2 separate regions of the Homo sapiens genome follow, and region 1 is linked to region 2. A link means that fine-mapping ties the variant in region 2 to the expression of a gene that starts in the linked region. Tissue or cell type: whole blood. Region 2 holds a variant in brackets; the other region holds the start of a gene. All regions are shown on one strand. Distances are from middle to middle.

What was found. PIP is the estimated chance that this variant, and not a neighbour inherited with it, causes the effect.
Region 1: CD320 starts here. The variant in region 2 is fine-mapped to the expression of CD320 in whole blood (INTERVAL, PIP 0.91).

What each region holds. Positions count from the first base shown.
Region 1 is chr19:8,305,229-8,310,865 of GRCh38, reverse strand. It overlaps CD320 (CD320 molecule), which reads left to right and starts at 2,508. Exons shown (of 5, transcript NM_016579.4): 1 at 2,508-2,717. The coding sequence starts at 2,576. It also overlaps a transcript of NDUFA7 not described here. RefSeq lists enhancers at 1,680-2,209, 2,265-3,004, 2,889-3,018, 3,005-3,745 and silencers at 2,406-2,744, 2,719-2,808.
Region 2 is chr19:8,339,203-8,344,839 of GRCh38, reverse strand. KANK3 (KN motif and ankyrin repeat domains 3) reads left to right here and starts at 1,578. Exons shown (of 11, transcript NM_198471.3): 1 at 1,578-1,615. RefSeq lists enhancers at 1,344-2,135, 4,070-4,570. The variant T/G (reference allele first, on the strand shown) is at 2,199.

The DNA.
Region 1 (5,637 bases), 34 kb after region 2:
TTTTTTTTTTTTGTAGAGATGGCCAGGCTGGTCTCAAATTCCTGACCTCAGGTGATCCGCCCGCCTTGGCCTCCCAAAGTGTTGGGATTACAGGTGTGAGCCACCACGCCTGGCCCCTGATTTTAAGCAATACCCAGCTTACTTGGATTTTGGGGTGAAGTCAGTGCTGAGTCTCCCAACTCTGTTGGCACTCCAGGGGTGGGACAGACACTGTCCCTGGGTGCAGAGGCCCTGGAGACAGCACTGCCCTTTCCCCCAAAGGCCAGGCTCTGACCTTGAGAGTGGTGGGAGTGGGTGATCCTTCTGGGAGGTTGGACTCCCAGGACCGCTGGCTGTTGGGGAGCATTGATTGTGAAGACCAGTCAGGTGGGGTAAGGGGTGTATGTGCGGACACTCAGTAGGCCAGCCACAGACTTCTCACTTCTTTTTTTTTTTTGAGACAGAGTTTCGCTCTTGTTGCCCAGGCTAGAGTACAATGGCGCGATCACGGCTCACTATAACCTCTGCCTCCTGGGTTCAAGTGATTCTCTTGCCTCAGCCTCCCGAGTAGCTGGGATTACAGGCGCCTGCCACAAGCCCAGCTAATTTTTGTATTTTTAGTAGAGACGGGGTTTCGCCATGTTGGCCAGGCTGGTCTCAAACTCCTGACCTCAAGTGATCCGCCCACCTCTGCCTCCCGAAGTGTTGGGATTACAGGCGTGAGCCACCGCGCCTGGCCTAACTTCCATCTCTTGAGGGCTCCCACAGCCACTTCTCACATGAACCTTCCTCAGCACCTTCCCACTGAGGCTCCTGCTTGACCATGGTCACCCTGCAGCTCAACGGGGAAGGCAGAGGACAGTAAGGGCTGCTCACAGGGAAGGCAAACCTAGGGCAGATCAGGAAAGGCCTCCCTGAGCCAGATCCCATTATGCTGGGGCTGTGGGATAAGAATGAATTCGCCCCAGAAGGAAGGCAGCTGGTTCCTGGGGAGGAGACAGAAATCTGCAAAGGGAGGGTGTCCAAGTCTGGCTGCAGGAGCCACCCAGTGACCCTACGCAGGGGAGTGTCATGGCTTCCCCAGGGCACAGCCCCAGACCCTTCAGCAGCTAAAAAAGATCAGCTGTGGACCAAGAGGGTGCTGAGACCGCCCTGCCCTCTGGAAGGGGAAAGGCCACGGCTACAGGCAGCAGGTACCAGTGTCCCAGAGTGGGTCCTACAAAGGCTAACACCTTCCTGGAGAAGGTGGGATTCTGCTTGGGGCAAAAGGATGAATCAGATTCAGAAAGGTCAGGAGGGAAGGAAAGACTAGGCAGGGTGTGCAGAGGCCACAAGGAGGGCAAGACCCTAGGCAAGGCATGCCGCTGACGGCATCTGAACCAAGTTTTATGACCACAACTTTTTTTTTTTTTTGAGACAGAGTCTCACTCTGTCACCCAGGCTGGAGTTCAATGATGTGGTCTCGGCGCACTGCAACCTCCGCCTCCCGGGTTCAAGCGATTCTCCCATCTCAGCCTCCCTAGTAGCTGGGACTACAGGAGCATGTTACCACACCCGGCTAATTTTTGTATTTTTGGTAGAGACGGGAGTTTTACTATGTTGGCCAGGCTGGTTTAGAACTCCTGACCTCGTGATCCGCCTGCCTCGGCCTCCCAAAGTGCTGGGGTTAACAGGCGTGAGCCAGCGCGCCGGCCAACTTTTCTAACAAATGGGGTCTCACTGTCACCCACGCTGGAGTGCAGCCCCAAGTGATTCTCCCACCTCAGCCTCCTGAGTAGCTGGGACTACAAATTAGAGCCACCATGCCCAGCTAATTTTCTTTTTTCTTGAGGCGGGCGGGGACTTGCTGTGTTGCCCAGGCTGATCTCGAACTCCTGGGCTCAAGCGATCTGCCCGCCTCTGCTTCCCAAAATGCTGGGATCACACACGTGACCCACCGCGCCCGGCCTTTATTATTAAATTTAATTAATTAATTGATTTCCTTTCCTTTTTCCCCCCCAAGCAACCCGACTCCGAGAATGGACGTTTCATTTATTCATTTACTCACCAAATGTTTACTAAGAGCCTACTATGAGTCAAGCACTATGTGTCAGATCCTGAGAATAAAGCAGTGAGCAACAGAAGATCCCTGCCCTCCAGTAGCTAGCATTCTATGGGGACTCGGACAACAAACCAGAATAAGTAAATAAAATAAATTACCTGTCGGCGCCACAAAAGCAGTGGGATGAGGGAGGAAATGCGGAGTGCCTGAGGGGCGTGGCTGCCATATTAAAGAAGATCACGAGGCAGTAACATTTGCAGCAGTCCTCATTTGGAACGGGAAATAATGCAAATGAACACCAACAAATTCCTTCCCATCCCCAGAAGTTTCTAACTTCAAGCGGGCTCCATACCTTTCAACTGATCTGGTCACTGGGGAAAGTGGGGACGGGCCTCTAATTCTCTTTTCCCTGCTATTCTGACATTTACGGTACGCGTAGCCGCGGGCGCCGCAGAACTCAGGGGCTTGGGCCCCGCCCCAACCCCGCGCGTGCGCGTGCGCAGGGATAAGAGAGCGGTCTGGACAGCGCGTGGCCGGCGCCGCTGTGGGGACAGCATGAGCGGCGGTTGGATGGCGCAGGTTGGAGCGTGGCGAACAGGGGCTCTGGGCCTGGCGCTGCTGCTGCTGCTCGGCCTCGGACTAGGCCTGGAGGCCGCCGCGAGCCCGCTTTCCACCCCGACCTCTGCCCAGGCCGCAGGTGAGTGACGCCCCGCAGCGCGGGCTCCCACCCCTCGCGAGGCTTCGCCCCGCCGCCGCGCACCGACAACGCCTAGTCACTGGCTGCACCGCACGTCAGTTCATGACACTCCCCCAGCACGTGGACTTGGACTTCATCGCTTGTGGGAAGGCGCGCACTGGTGCTAGGAAGACCCCATGCTGGGGGAGGGGAGGAGGGTGTCTCCACCTGCCTTTAACGGTTTTGCTCCGGCCCTGCACACCGTCTCCACACCTGCTGTGCCCTGTCGTCCCCCATTGTCACCTCCAAGCCGCCCTTCATACCAGCGTGGTCAGGAAAGCTCTTAGCAGGCTCAGATTGTCCGACCGCTAATCACGCAGGACGGGTCACCTGGTGCCTCTCGCACCTTTGCCTTCCAAACCCTCGCGCCCAGGCCTTGTGACCGTTCCGCAACCGTCCCTGCCCTCCCAGTCTCTCCTCCTTTGTCCTCCATCCTTAGAGAACGCGAGGTCTCTCCCCCCCATGCTACTGCAGGCTCTCGCAGAGACTGGGGTCACAAGTTGAATATACCCCCGTGGACGTGTTCGCCCTGGCCTAAGAGGTATTGGTGGCCAGTGGGGACGGGCTCCCTCTCTGATACCCCTAGAGGCAGCTGGAGGGTTGGAGTGGCCTCCCTGTGCACTCAGGCACTCCCAACTTGCAGCCCTGGGCTCAGGCTCACACACTTTCCCAGCTCCTTTGTGCATTCCGCACTTCTAGGTCCCTGGACTCATCCCAAAGTCCCTGACATTCACGTTAAATGTTCCTGGGTTTTTTTTTGTTTGTTTTTTTTTAAGGAGGCAGCGTTCACGTTAACCAAGTACAAAAGTTTTTGTTTTTTTTTTTTTGAGTCTCCCTCTGTCGCCCTGGCTGGAGTGCAGTGCAATGTTGGCTCACTGCACCCTCCGCCTCCCGGGTTTAAGCAATTCTCATGCCTCAGCCTCCCGAGTAGCTTGGGACTACAGGCACCGTCACCATGCCCGGCTAATTTTTGTATTTTTAGTAGAGATGGGGTTTCACCATGTTGGCCAGACTGGTCTCGAACTCCTGACCTCAAGTGTTCTGTCCGCCTCAGCCTCCCAAAGTGCTGGGATTACAGGACAAAACTCTATACACAGTCTCTTTTTTCTCAGGATGTTGAGGTAGGGATTCCCAGCATACCCCGTTTACAGGTGAGGAAACTGAGGCCAGGAGAGAAAGTCACTGGTCACTGTAACTCCTGTCAGGCTTACACCCTATGAGGCGGGGACTGCTGTGCTCTACTGTCCACTTTGCAGAGGGATACACACTCCCGCAGTCCAGCGAAGGGAGGTCAGAGGTGTCAGGGCTGTGGAAGTCTGCGCCTGGGTGGAGAGCCACACCTGGAGGCTGCCAGATCTCCCGGGGGCGGGGAAGGAAGCAGGCACCGGTTTGTCCACAGCTCTTCTGGGATCCATAGAGCTCAGGGACCCTGTGGCAAGTAGGTGCAATTAGGCCTGAAGGCCGAGGAGGGGCTGGCAGTGGGGAGTGGGGGGTTGGAGGCTCATGGCTGGTGGGTAAAGGTGGAAGAGGTTAAAGGCCTTGGCAGAGTGAAGCTAAGCCAGGGTGGCGGATTTGCCACCTCCCCTGGCCGCACCCAGGAGGAAGCCGTAAAGGCCACTCCCTTCCTCTGTCCCTTGGCCCAGGTTGCGGGCCCCTCCGTGCCCCTCCAGGTCGGCAAGCAGCTGAGCTTCCCTGCTCAGAATCTAGGACAGCCGGGATCTTCTCTGGACCCAGCTTGGACCCTTATGTGACCTGTGTCCACTTATAATCAGGCACTGCCCTGGGTTTAGGCGGCCAGGTCACAGCCCTGACCTCCACAGAATGTCCAGTCTGTGGGTGGACAGGCATGACCAGGGCTTTAAGGACAGTTGTTAGACATGGGAGGCAGTGCTTCCTAGGTCTCCAAGAGGGACATGAGAACCCTCCCAGGAAATCAGCTGAGATCTGAAAATTGAGGGGAAAACACAGGGTGTAGGGAGGAGAGAGGGAAAGGCAAGTCTCTGGTGTCCTAATGGACCTTGGGGCCTGGGGCCTGGGGCTCTGGTGAGGAGCTGACACATTTAGGATGGGGAGAGTGATAGGTCTGGGAGGAATTCAGGAGGCGGGGCAACAGGACTTGGTGACTGAGCAGATTTTCTACCCAGTGCCTCAGTTTCCCACCCACTGCCTCAGTTTCCCTTTTGCTACGCAGAGGAGATAGACCCTCCCTGCTGACCTGAGCCCGGGAGCCTGACCCAGGGCATGTGGAAAAATGGCCCGTCCCTCAGTCTCTTTAACCACTGAGTTTGGAGGTCTCCCTGGCAGATCATCTCGCTATGAGGAGCCTGGTGAAGACTCTGGGATCAGCGAGACCTGAGTTCGAAGCCCAACTCCGCTACCAGCTCTTTTTTTTTTCTTTTTTGTGGTGACGGAGTCTCGTTCTGTCGCCCAGGCTGGAGTGCAGCAGTATGATTTCGGTTCATTGCAACCTCCATCTCCCAGGTTTAAGCGATTCTCATGCTTCAGCCTCCCGAGTAGCTGGCATTACAGGCGTGCACTACCACGCCCGGCTAATTTTTGTATTTTTAACAGAGACGGGGTTTCCATGTAGGCCAGGCTGGTCTCGAACTCGTGACCTCAAGTGATCCACCTGCCTCGGCCTGCCAAAGTGCTGAGATTACAGGCGTGAGCCACTGCACCCAGCCTCTGCCACCAGCTGTATGGCCTCCTCTTGGTTCCTTTCTCTGTAACCTGGGGAGTGCAGTAGCACCTGCCCAGTGGGGCTCTTGAGCCCAGGAACTGCTACACTCTGAACCCCACTCGTACTAGGGGCTCAGTAACAAGCAGCCGCCAGTGTGGTTCCTATATCCCGGGACTTCGCCTGTCTCCTGCGGATCACAGC
Region 2 (5,637 bases):
GCTGACACTTAATTTAGAGACAGAGTCTCACTCTGTTGCCCAGGCTGGTCTTGAGCTGCTGGGCTCAAAAGATCCTCCCACCTCAGCCTCAGGAGGTGCTAGGATTACAGGCATGAGCCACCCCACCTGGCCTTGGTGCCGACACTTTAGTGAGATGGCAAGCAGGTAAACCAATAAATAACCAGCCAGGCATGGTGGCTCACGCCTGTAATCCCAGCACTTTGGGAGGCTGAGGTGGGCGGATCACCTGAGGTCAGGAGTTCGAGACCAGCCTGGGCAACATGGTGAAACCCTGTCTCTACTAAAAATACAAAAATTAGCTGGGCGTGGTGGTGTGCGCCTGTAATCCCAGCTACTTAGAAGGCTGAGGCAGGAGAATCGCTTGAACCCCAGGAGGCAGAGGTTGCAGTGAGCCAAGATCGCACCACTGCACTCCAGCCTGGGACAGAGCGAGACTCTGTCTAAAAAAAAATTAAATTAAATTAAAAAATAAACCAAATAAATAACTGAGTGTTTCGTTTTTGTCTTTTTGTTTTGTTGTTTTCTTTTGTTTTGAGAACTAGGTCTTGCTATGTTGCCCAGGCTGGTCTCAACTCCTGGCTCAAGCTATCCTCCCATCTATGCCTCCCTAAATACTGGATTTACAGGCGTGAGTCACTGCGCCTGCCAATAACAGAGTCTGCTTTTTTTTTTTTTTCCAGATAGTAAAAGTAGCTATTAGGTTAATACAATAGAGTGATGAGAAAAATACTAACTGGGGAGGGGCTATGTCAGGAATTTAGGGGGCAGCAACACAAAAGCTGAACCTCAGAAAGTAGGGAAGGCCGGGCGCGGTGGCTCACGCCTGTAATCCCAACACTTTGGGAGGCTGAGGCGGGCGGATCACTTGAGGTCAGGAGTTCCAGACCAGCCCGGCCAACATGGTGAAACCCCATCTCTACTAAAAATACAAATATTAGCTGGACGTGGTGGTGTGTGTCTGTAATCCCAGCTACTCGGGAGGCTGAGGCAGGAGAATTGCTTGAACCCAGGAGGCGGAGGTTGCAGTGAGTGTCACTGCACTCCAGCCTGGGACTCCGTCTCAAAAAACAAAAACAAAACAAAACAAAAAACAGTAGGGGAGCCTCAAAAAGTACCTACGTGTACAGGTGCAAGGGAAAGCATTTCAGGTAGGTGGAACAGCATGTGCAGAGGCCCTGCGGTGGGGAAGATCCGGGACCTGATACTTCACCCAGGCACTGCGAAATAAGTGCCAGTTATAGAAATCCCACCGGGTTACTCTTCTACTCATAGTTCTCCCATGGCTCCCTCGTGCCTGTGGATCAAATCCAAGCTCCTTGGCCCGGCGCTGGGCAGAGACTTGACCTCTGCTGGTGCAGAAATGCCGCCAGCCAGCGCTCGGCGACCGTCACTCCAGGGCCCGCCCTCAGTCACCACCCCTACATTCCAGGCCCCGCCTGCCTGTCCCACCCCACCGTCCCACTGGGCGGCTTGGAGAGCCTCGGGTGCTGGTTGGCTGGCGTGGCCGTCAGTTAGGGCGAAGGCCTTGATAATCAGTCCCCGGACTTCGAGGGGGCGGGCTCGGGTGCGGGCGCGGCTGGGGCTGCGGCTTCAGGTAAATTGCCAGCTTGCGGGGACACGGATGGGGGACCCCTGGGTGGGTGGATTCGGGGACGCACCGGGACCCGGCGCTGCGCTGCGTTTCCAGCCCCACTGAGGGCTCTGCCCGCTGCGACGGGGCGGGCGTCGTGTCCTCTGGCCGGGACCCCTCCCACATTGGAAGTCCCAGGTGGGTAGCGAGCAGAGTGGGGGGCTCTGGAGGCGTGGGCTTGCCCCCCTCTCGCCCTTCGGGAGCTCACTGCGGGGCTCGTTCGCTCCCTAATGCCACAACCGGCCCTGGGACCCTTTCCCGGGACGGCCTGGGGACCCCAGCCAGCCCCTCGCGCTGGGCTGGGTGTGGGAGCGTGTCACGGAAATGGTGTTTTGGGGAGGGACGCACGGCCCCCGGACCCGCAGACAATGGGTAGCGGATGGAACCGCCCGGCGGCGCTTCCTGTAGGAAACTGCTCTGTCTCTGTGCGGCTAGGACGACCTGGGGGTGGACGGGTGATGATGACTTTAACACCCACCTTCCTGCCGCCACCGGTCCCCCACCCACCCACCTCAAGAGTCTGAGAGTCCCAGCAGACATCAGGGGC[T/G]GCCAGTACTCAGGGCCTCCTGGAAGGCGCCCTCTCCCCAGGACTGGGATCCTCACTGGCCTGCCGTGGCCCCCACCACTCCGGTTTGGTGATCACAGCTCTGCGTCCCAAAATAGTCCCTGGGGCGGGAGAGGGGGCGTGTGGCGTCGGCTCTGACGGCCTAATGAGGGGGTCTCAGGCACAGAATCCGGATCTAGCTGTGACAGTCAGGGCAGGGAGCGGAGGAGAGGGAAGGCAGCTAAACGCCCCACTTAGTGAGGCCCCAGCCCCTGAAGCCGCAGAGGTGGTGGGCACCTCCGCCCCCAATCAGAGTCTGACACAGGTGTAGGCTGGGAGGGACAAGCCCCCTGAGGCTCCTTGGTGGTTCATGCCTGTTATCCCAGCACTTTGGGAGGTCAAGTAGGGCTGATCTCTTGAGGTCAGGAGTTTGAGACCAGACTGACCAACATGATGAAACCCGTCTCTACTAAAAATTCAAAAATTAGCCAGCTGTGGTGGCAAGTGCCTGTAATCCCAGCTACTCAGGATGCTGAGGCAGGAGAGTCGCTTGAACCCTGGGCTCAGAGGTTGCAGTGAGCCGAGATCCTGCCACTGCACTCCAGCCTGGGTGACAGAGACTCCGTCTCAAAAATAAAAATAAAAGAAAGCATTCAAGTGTAGTGGCCAAAGCAAGGACTCTGGAAGACCTGCCTGGGTTTAAAACCTGCCTCTGCCTGTTTATGACAGGACCCAGGCAGGACACTAAACTGTTCTGTGTCTCAGTTTCTCCATCTGTACAATAGGGGAAGGGACAATGATCATAGGAAATCCAACCTCAGTGGATTTAGCTAGGATTTTAAAAAATAAGTCAAGGTCAGGTGCAGTAGCTCATGCTTGTAATCCCAGCACTCTGGGAGGCTGAACTGGGAAGATTGCTTGAGCCCAGGAGTTGGAGGCCAGCCTGGGCAATATAGCAAGACACCTGTATCTACAAAAAATAAAATTAGGCCGGGCACGGCTCACGCCTGGTTTGAGACCAGCCTGGCCAACATGGTGAAACTCCGTCTCTACTAAAAATACAAAAATTAGCCAGGCATGGTGGTGCACACCTGTAATCCCAGCTGCTTGGGAGGCTGAGGCAGGAGAATCACTTGAACCCGGGAGGCGGAGATTGCAGTGAGCTGAGATTGTGCCACTGCACTCCAGCCTGGGCGACAGAGCATGACTCCATCTAAAACAAAAAACCAAAAAATTTAAAATATTAGCCTGAATTAGCCAGGTGTAGAGGTCCATTCCTGTAGTCTCAGCTATTTGTGAGGCTGAGGCGGATCACTTGAGCTCAGGGGTTCAAGGCCACAGTGAGCTATGATCGAGCCACTGACTCCAGCCTGGGTGACAGAGTGAGCGAGACATTGCCTCTAAAAAAAAAAAAAAAAAAAGTAAATATCCATAAATTCCTTAGACTAGAGGCTGGCCCATAGTAAATATCAAAAGCGTTGTTATTATTTGACATTCTGGAGGGATCCATTCCTTTCTTAGCCCAGCCTCTGGATCCAACTGCTTCAGCTAGTTTAGGTCTTAGGAATGGCCCACAGCTGTCTTCTGAGATCCCAGGGCCTGGGATTTGGGTGTGACCAGGTCACCGGAGGAGGACGCTGACCCCATTGCGTCATACGGCCAGCTGTGTGAGAAGTAGACCCAGACCCCCCAACCCTTGATCTGGACTTTTTCCACAACCCAGTTCTTCCCTGGCAATTTCCTGAAAACAAGTGATGAACGGCATTGGCTGTCCTCTGCGATGACCCGCTGGCCTGTTGATCCACCCCTTGCAGCTGGTGTGAAGGGACGGGAAACAGCTGCTTGGGGACTGGAAGAGGCCCCCTGCCTGGCCTTGGAGTGGGAAGGGAGAGGTCAGGGACCTCGGCCAGACAGAAGTGGGAAATGGAGTTACGGTTTCCCCAGCGGTGGAGTAGGGTAATGAGTCAGGAGGGCTGGTGGGTGCTCAGTGCTTCATAGCATCAGGCACACAGGTGGTCCCAGGGATTCGAGAAGCCAGAAGGGGTGGCTGGGAGTGTTGCCATGTGGTTAGCACAGACGGGCCGTGGCCCAGGGAGAGGATGAAGTGGGTTTGGCAGATGCCTGTCAGTGGAGGACTGGACAGGTAAAGGGCAGTCAGAAGCTGTGGCAGGGACCTGCTGACAAGGGTTCCGCAGATGGGCAGAGCCCAATCTGAGGGTGCTTCCCACAGGCAACTGATTTAATTGTTCTGTGCCTCAGTTTCTCCATCTGTAAAATATGAATAATAATACTACTTTGCAGTATGCAAAGTGTTGTATGGGGGCTGTGTGTGTGTGTGTGTGTGTGTGTGTGTATATATATATATATATGGTTTTTTTTTTTTGAGACGGAGTCTGGCTCTGTCCCCCAGGCTGGAGTGCAGTGGCATGATCTCAGCTCACTGCAACCTCTGCCTCCCAGGTTCAAGCGATTCTCCTGCCTCAGCCTCCTGAGTAGCTGGGACTACAGGCATGCACCATTGTGTCCAGCTATGGCGATGACATTTAATCAGGAAGGGCACACCGTAGGCACTTTCCCCTCCCTGAAGGTTTTCCATGTGGGCTTTCCAAAGCCCATCTTTCCCACTCCATGTTCCTGTGCTTTTCTTTTCTTTTCTTTTCTTTTTTTTTTTTTTTTTTTTTGAGACAAGGTCTTGCTCTGTCAACCAGGCTGGAATGCAGTGGCATGATCATAACTCACTGCAGCCTGCATCTCCTGGACTCAAGAGATACTCCTGCCTCAGCTTCTTGAGTAGCTGGGACTACAGGTGCATGCCAACACATCCAGCTAATTTTTGTGTTTTTTGTAGAGATGGGGTTTCGCTATTTTATTTATTTATTTAGAGACAGAGCTTCGCTCTTGTTGCCCAGGCTGGAGAGCAATGGCTTGTGAGCCACTGTGCTTGGTGGTTTCACTATTTAAAAACAAACAAACAAAAGAGATAGTGGCCAGGCACCTTGGCTCATGCCTGTAATCCCAGCACTTTGGGATGCCGAGGTGGGTGGATCACCTGAGGTCAGGAGTTCGAGACCAGCCTGGCCAACATGATGAAACCCTATCTCTACTAAAAATACAAAAAATTAGCCAGGTATAGTAGCAGTGGCTGTAATCCCAGCTACTCAGGAGGCTGAGGCAGGAGAATCACTTGAACCCAGGAGGCAGAGGTTGCAGTGAGCCAAGATTGTGCCACTGCACTCTAGCCTGGGCAACAAGAGGGAAATTCTGTCTCAAAAAAAAAAAAAAACAAAAAGAGATAGGGTCTCGCTATGTTGCGCAGGTGGGTCTTGACTCCTAGGCTCAAGCGATCCTTCTGCTTTGGCTTCCCAGAGTGCTGAGATTTCACCCTGTGCTTTTTGAACCAAAGTTCTGGATTCAATATTTGTCCTTGTTAAATATCACATTA